2 linked regions of the Homo sapiens genome follow. The protein of the gene in region 2 interacts with the protein of the main gene of each other region in a biochemical or structural test. Each region holds a gene or a part of one and is shown on either strand. Other genes may lie near its edges.

The links. The genes of interacting proteins can lie anywhere in the genome.
Region 1: the proteins of TAFA2 (region 2) and KIR3DL1 form a complex in vitro, tested with the Homo sapiens proteins (one study listed by BioGRID).

What each region holds. Positions count from the first base shown.
Region 1 is NC_000019.10:54,819,468-54,823,067, forward strand, and holds part of KIR3DL1 (killer cell immunoglobulin-like receptor 3DL1 isoform 1 precursor), read left to right. Parts: intron 1-245; coding exon 246-545; intron 546-2,097; coding exon 2,098-2,391; intron 2,392-3,600. UniProt on the Homo sapiens protein: Receptor on natural killer (NK) cells for HLA Bw4 allele. Inhibits the activity of NK cells thus preventing cell lysis.
Region 2 is NC_000012.12:61,710,174-61,713,773, reverse strand, and holds part of TAFA2 (chemokine-like protein TAFA-2 precursor), read left to right. Parts: intron 1-3,356; coding exon 3,357-3,368; 3' UTR 3,369-3,600. UniProt on the Homo sapiens protein: Has a role as neurotrophic factor involved in neuronal survival and neurobiological functions.

The DNA of each region.
Region 1 (3,600 bases), on a different chromosome or scaffold from region 2:
CCAAGAGATGAGGCTGTCTTCACAGTGGCAAGGGAGTCAGGGGCTACTGGAGACAGAGGGACAGAGAAGAGGGAGGAAGACAGATGGAGGCACCTGCACCAGGGGATATGGGCACAGAAAAGACACGGAGATGCAGAGAGGGAGGAGAGAGACAGACACGGGGAGGGGAACCCTCACTCATTCCAGGTGCCATGGATGGGATGATAAAGAGAGATGCCTTCTAAACTCACAACTTCTCTTTCTAGGAAACCACAGAAAACCTTCCCTCCTGGCCCACCCAGGTCCCCTGGTGAAATCAGGAGAGAGAGTCATCCTGCAATGTTGGTCAGATATCATGTTTGAGCACTTCTTTCTGCACAAAGAGGGGATCTCTAAGGACCCCTCACGCCTCGTTGGACAGATCCATGATGGGGTCTCCAAGGCCAATTTCTCCATCGGTCCCATGATGCTTGCCCTTGCAGGGACCTACAGATGCTACGGTTCTGTTACTCACACCCCCTATCAGTTGTCAGCTCCCAGTGATCCCCTGGACATCGTGGTCACAGGTGAGAGTGTCTAGACATTGTTCTCATTGTCACTGGGACACAGAGTGAATGATCCAGGACTTGGAACCCCCAGGTGGTCATGAGGAAGATAAGTGTGGGATTCTTATGGAAAGAGAGTGACTTGGTGAGGTCTGTACCAACAGAGACAGAGAAACAGGAGACATAAGTACAGAACAGGTGTCATAACAGAGGACAGACACAGGGGCCATACAGGGAGGTAGAAAAGAGAGAAAGAGGTAAAGGAGACACTCAGACAGACAGACATGTCCCAGAGAGAGGTGTCCTTCCATGCTGACTTTGCTCAGAGACCTGGCACAGGTTAGAAGTTTCATTTCTGTTTTACCTCCACAAAGTGTTCCTACCAGAAGAACCCAAGGACACCCATATTTCTGACCTGAGTTGGGCCCTGTGGCCTCAGGCCTTGTGCCACCTACAGATGCCGTGTTTATTCTGACACCTCTGCCTTCCATGCAATGGAGAGTAATCATCCCAGGATATCATGGCCCCTGAACACCAACCCCTGTATGCTGTGTGAACTTGGGGTCCCCAGACTGGATTCTGAGGCTCATATTCCAAATAATCCCACATATGATAGGATCGCTGAGAGACACAGAGAAAAATCAGGGACACCAAAAAGCAAAGACATAAACACACACAAAATGAGCCAGAAGAAGGAGATTAAGAGATTCACAGACACATAAAAAGAAAGAAAAGAGGGCAGAATGGAGAGAATGATGGAAAGGAGGAGAGAAAAGCCCCAAAATCAGAACCCTGAGGGAGGGACACAAAGACAGAGAAAGATAAATATGTGGGGATGGATTGCAGAGATTCCAAATAGAACTAGAGAGACTGAGAGGCAGAGAAAGACAAGGAGACGGAGAGAGAGAGATGATAGATGGATAGATAGACGTAGATAGATGATAAATAGGTAGATGATAGATAATGGATTGGTTATAGATACATAGATGATGACTGATAGATGATACATAGAGATGACGATGATGATGATAGACACATAGATATATACATAGATGATACATAAATAGAGACAGAGAGGCAGACAGAGAGGTAATAGAGAGAGAGATAGATGATACATATATAGATAATAGATGATTGATGGATAGATAGACAGACAGACAATTGATAGAGAGATAGATAAGTGATACATAAATATAGATGATAGATAATTTGTAGATAGACACAAAATAGATAAATAGATAGAAATGTGCAGAAAGTTATGAACAAGACAGAAAGTGAGAGACTCAAAATTAAAGAAAAAGGAAGATCAAGTCAACCAATCCAAGGAGGGTCAGAGAGAATAAAACAATCCAAAAAGGGAAAACATACCTCAGGGTGGGGAAGTGAGGTCATAGACCTAGAGAGACAGAAAAGGTAGAAGGAGGAAACAGATATGAAGAGAGATGGGGTGGAGGGTGAGAGAGAGAGAGAGAGCATTAGGTCATAGAGCAGGGGAGTGAGTTCTCAGCTCAGGTATGAGGGGAGCTATGACAAGGAAGAACCTCCCTGAGGAAACTGCCTCTTCTCCTTCCAGGTCCATATGAGAAACCTTCTCTCTCAGCCCAGCCGGGCCCCAAGGTTCAGGCAGGAGAGAGCGTGACCTTGTCCTGTAGCTCCCGGAGCTCCTATGACATGTACCATCTATCCAGGGAGGGGGGAGCCCATGAACGTAGGCTCCCTGCAGTGCGCAAGGTCAACAGAACATTCCAGGCAGATTTCCCTCTGGGCCCTGCCACCCACGGAGGGACCTACAGATGCTTCGGCTCTTTCCGTCACTCTCCCTACGAGTGGTCAGACCCGAGTGACCCACTGCTTGTTTCTGTCACAGGTGAGAAAAGCCCATATCTCTCTCATGTCCTATGATCCTAAATCCTTAGCTAAGGAGCTTCCTGCTGATGATGGAGAAAAGCATGGACAGATGCAGAGAGAAGACACAGCAGGTGTGAGGGCGGAGTCAGGGCGCAGGATGGCAGACAGGGCACCTCCAAACCCTCCTTCATGGCCTGCATGGAGGCCTCCGATCAGGGCTCCAGGCACCCAGGCAGATGGAGAAAGCGGTCAGGACAGACCCAGAGAAGGGGAGACTGGGCTTAGTTTGGGGAGATCAGAGGTTCCCTCAGCCCCTCAATCTTATCCATTTCCCAGAAGCCCATCATGGCCTCTCACCCACACAGAGAGATATCATCACCAGCAACCCCTACACCCTTTTCTTTTCATTTTCAAAAATATTTATTGAGGTTAAATGTAACTATATAATTTACCACCTTTACCATTTTTAAAAGTAAAATCTAGTGGTCATAAATACCTTTATATGCTGGGTGTGGTGGTTCACGGTTGTAATCTCGGCGCTTTGAGAGGCCAAGGAAGGTGGATCATTTAAGATCAGGAACTCGAGATCACCCTGGCCAACATGTGGGAAATTCATCTTTACTAAACAGACAAGAAAAATTAGCCGAGCATGCTGGCATGCACCTGTAGTCCTAGCTACTTGGGAGGCTGAGGCAGGAGAAGCACTTAAACCCAGGAGGCAGAGGTTGCACTGAGCCGAGATCATGCCACTGCACTGCAGCCTGGGAGACAGAGAGAGACTCTGTTTCTAAATAAATAAATACATCTATATTCTTTTTTTTGTTACCCTCCACCCTTCCCTTCCTGGCCTCTGGTGTCCACCATTGTATTCTCCACCTTCATGAGATCCACCTTTTATCTCCTGCATGTGGGTGAGAAATGGGAATCTTTGTAATGACCTCCAGTTCCATCCATGTGGCTGCAAATGACAGGATGTTATTGTTTCTATGGATGAGTAGTCTCCACTGTGTGTGTGTACCACAGTTCTCTATCCATTCACCCACTGATGGGCAGGTAGGTTGACTCCACATCTTGGCTACTGTGAACAGTGCTGGAACAGTCATATGAGTGCAGATATCACTTCGATACACTGATGTCCTTTCCTTTGGATATAAACCCAGTAGTGAAATTGCTGGACACTATGAAAGTTCTCTTTTTTTTTTTTTCTTTTTTGAGAAAGAGTTTCCCT
Region 2 (3,600 bases):
CTCATATTTATTTAAAATAAGCATACAAATCATAAAAGGTTGATATTTTTGTTTAATTTTAGGTAATAATTTCATTTGCAAATAGTATTTGGACCTTGCATAGTAAACTTTTTCAACTGGTGATAATGTACCTATATTTAGAATCATTTTCCTATACATTTTTAAACCTTTGGTTTTCCCATCTTGTTTAGTGCAAACCCTGAGGTTGTCAGGGAGGGTGCTGGTAGATATTTATACATGTTCATCCTTATTTTGTGTTGAAAAGGATGAGTCATTAGTTAGGCTTTAATTCCTTCAATGCAGTTCTCTAAACTTTCATGAATGTCTGTTAGTATTGTTCAAAGAAAAACTTTAGCCGAATTAAATTGAGCAAAGAACAATTTGTGAATCATGCAGTCTCCCAAGCAAGAGTAGGCTCAGAGACTCCAGCACAGACACGTTGTGGAAGATTTATAGACGGAAAAAGGAAAGTGACATAGAGAAAACGGAAGTGAGGTATAGAAACAGCCAGATTGGTTACAGCTCAGCATCTGCCTCATTTGAACACAGTTTGAACAGTTGGCCACCTTTGATTGGCCAAAACTCGGTGATTGGTGTAAGAGTGGGCTACATTGTGTTTACACCTCCATTTAGGTTACAGTTTATGATGTACAGAGAAACCTTTAGGCTGAACTTAAAATATGTAAGGAGGAAGCTTTAGGCTAAATTTAATAGTGTGATTCTTTCATTCTACTTTTAGTGGCTCTCTTGTTAAAGATTTATACATTCAAAAGCAAAAAAATCCCTCCTAAAATCCAGACCTTTTATTTTTATAGTTGGTCAGGGTTGACAAAGCTAGGTGTTAAATAACATTATAATACTTGATCTTCATGGCAATACTGCCATTCTGGCCTAAATACAGAGCTCTTGATGCCGAATCACCATGTGTCCTCTTGGTCAAAATCAAATAATCAAAAAAAAAAAATCAAGTATTAGATTGTATACTTTCATCTAATATTAGAAATGATTTATACCATATTCTTCATCTCATATGCTAGGATATTTTTAAAATTAGTAATCCAGGAATATTGTGTAAAACTTAGGTGTGAGAATAGGTTGCTTTAATTATGCTGTAATCCATGTGTGTTTAGACAATTACTTCTTTTAGTCATGTTTAAGTTTTGTTTCTCTAGCAATTATGTTAGCTGATAGAAAGATATCATCATGAAAATGGATGTTTATGATGTTTTTGAGGATATGGGTTATATCCTTATTTATATGTGTTTGTATGTTTATGTGTGTGTATATATCTATGTTTTTTCTCTACAGAAATGGAGAAAAAAATTGTTTTAGTTTTATAAGCCTTTTGTATTATACTTTTAATTTAGATGTCTATTTTCAAAATTATATGAGAGCAAAGTTTTAATATGTAAATAGCTGAGAGGATCATTTCTCAACTTTATATAAACTAGTAGAGTCAAATATTTAGCTTGAAATGAAGATATAGGAATGCATCTATTATACTCACTAATAGATTACTTAGAACCTGAGCTTGAAGTGGATCAAGAGGACGTGTCACTTGCTATCATAGAGTCATGGCACCACATTTATGCAGTTCATTTCCGCCATGTTTCTCCATTTGGCTACACTGAGCAACAGCAGAGGCTAAACCATTTATTCTCTCTCAATTTCCTCTCTCTCTCTTTCTCTCTCAATTTCCTCTCTCCATCTTTTACACACACACATATAGCTTCCCCTCTCTTTTCTTGTCTTTTCAGCATTAGTTTTGAAAATATGGTCCACATTCATACTCAATTTGGGAGCCCTTCACAGAAATTGTATATGATGACTCCTGAATGGCAGGCAGATTGATAGTTGATAATTGATAATGAGATCAATGCTATGCCTAAGATATCTCCTGCTCCCAGAATCTCAAAGATTCAGTAGGCTCTTCATGTGTTTCCAACCCTCCATCCTTGGCACAACTTCTTCCATGGTTCTGTGCATGGGAGTAAAACACTTCAAATATGCAGGCAAAGAACTCCTTCCTTGGGAGTGCTAGCAGACCACTGAGACAGAAATGAGATGACTGTCTCCATGCATGAAAACACTTTTTTGCCTTTTGTACCATCTCCCTTTGGTAGTATAATTTGAGACTAGCCATAGCAAAGTCTAGAACTAGCTTATTATTTTGTTTAATATATTCATTTTTTACATAATTGATCAGAAAACAATGAAACCAAACAGACTTTTGTAATGTTTTTCAAAGGACAAGTAACAATGTCACTTAATAGAATAAAATCAAAATTTTGACAATAATTTTTTAAAATCACTTTTTGTTTTAGCCATTCCTAGAAAAGAACTGTTAGGTAACTCTCTAAATACCCTGCCTGATATTAGAATAGAATTAGAAATTTATTAACACAGCAGAAATCGAGATATTTCTGCTGTGTTGGTAATCTCTTCTCCTCTCCCCTCTTTCTCCCTCTATCCTCTCTCTCTCTCAAAATCTCTTTTCCTCTCCCCTCCTTCTCCCTCTCTCTTCTTCTCCCTCTCCCTGTGTGTTTTCCTCTGTATCTATGCATACGTAGATATGTATGTATATATGTATCAGGTATTCTATCTGTTTATTATTCTTTTTTCCTGTACACAAATGGTCTTTGGACTTTAGTAGGTGTGAAGTTAGTATGAATGTTTTTAGTGATACTTAAAATAGCATTAATAGTATATTCCAATCAATTTTATGAAAATTTTGGGGCACCTTTAACATTTGGTACAACATTTTTCTATTCCTTATTGTTTCTTTCCTCAGATATTTTTGTCCCCCATAAACAGATTTTTTTCAAATATAATTTTTCAAATATAATTTTTCAAATATAATTGACTCAAATAAACCCTCAATTTTTAAACTATTTCAAAAATGAACTTTATGGAACCAATCCCCAAGGGCTTTTTGAGAATATGATGTGACTGTGTTGCTGGGGACAAAGGTCTTTCTTCACTGAGGCCTAGTATGATGTGTTTGTGATATTTGGGTTATGGCTACCAAGCCTGTGCAAAAAAACAAGGATTCCAGAATCACTCTCTGGGTGTGAGAGGGATATTGTTGTCACCAGTTGGGATAATTCTAGTCACAGTTATATTCACTTGGATAATTGTGCAAATGGCTTTAAAAATATTGTGAGATGATAATGAGAAAAAAAGTATATTTTTATATGATGGAAATACCTGCATCTGTTAGTCCTTTAAAATTAAGTAATGCATTTGATATAGCAAACACCAGCATTTTGAGTTATCTATTAATTTTTAATTGTGTTTAGTTTTAAGATTATCGGTATGTTATGAAATGTTGACTATATTTTCTCCTTCCTTTGTAGGTAACCCATTAACCCAGGAGAAATCAAGTGATCCTCAAGGCTGATGACATTGAACATGCGCATAGAAACTTAACTCAACTCCTGAGGTGATCTTGAAGATTTTTATACCACTTGAAAGAGGCGCTCAATAGTCTATTTCCAAGGGATTTCATGGCCTCTTCTTGAAATCAAGACTTTTTAAAAGTCAGACATGAACTTGCATGTCATGAAGATTTCAGCAGATTTGAACTGTGTTCAACTTGTA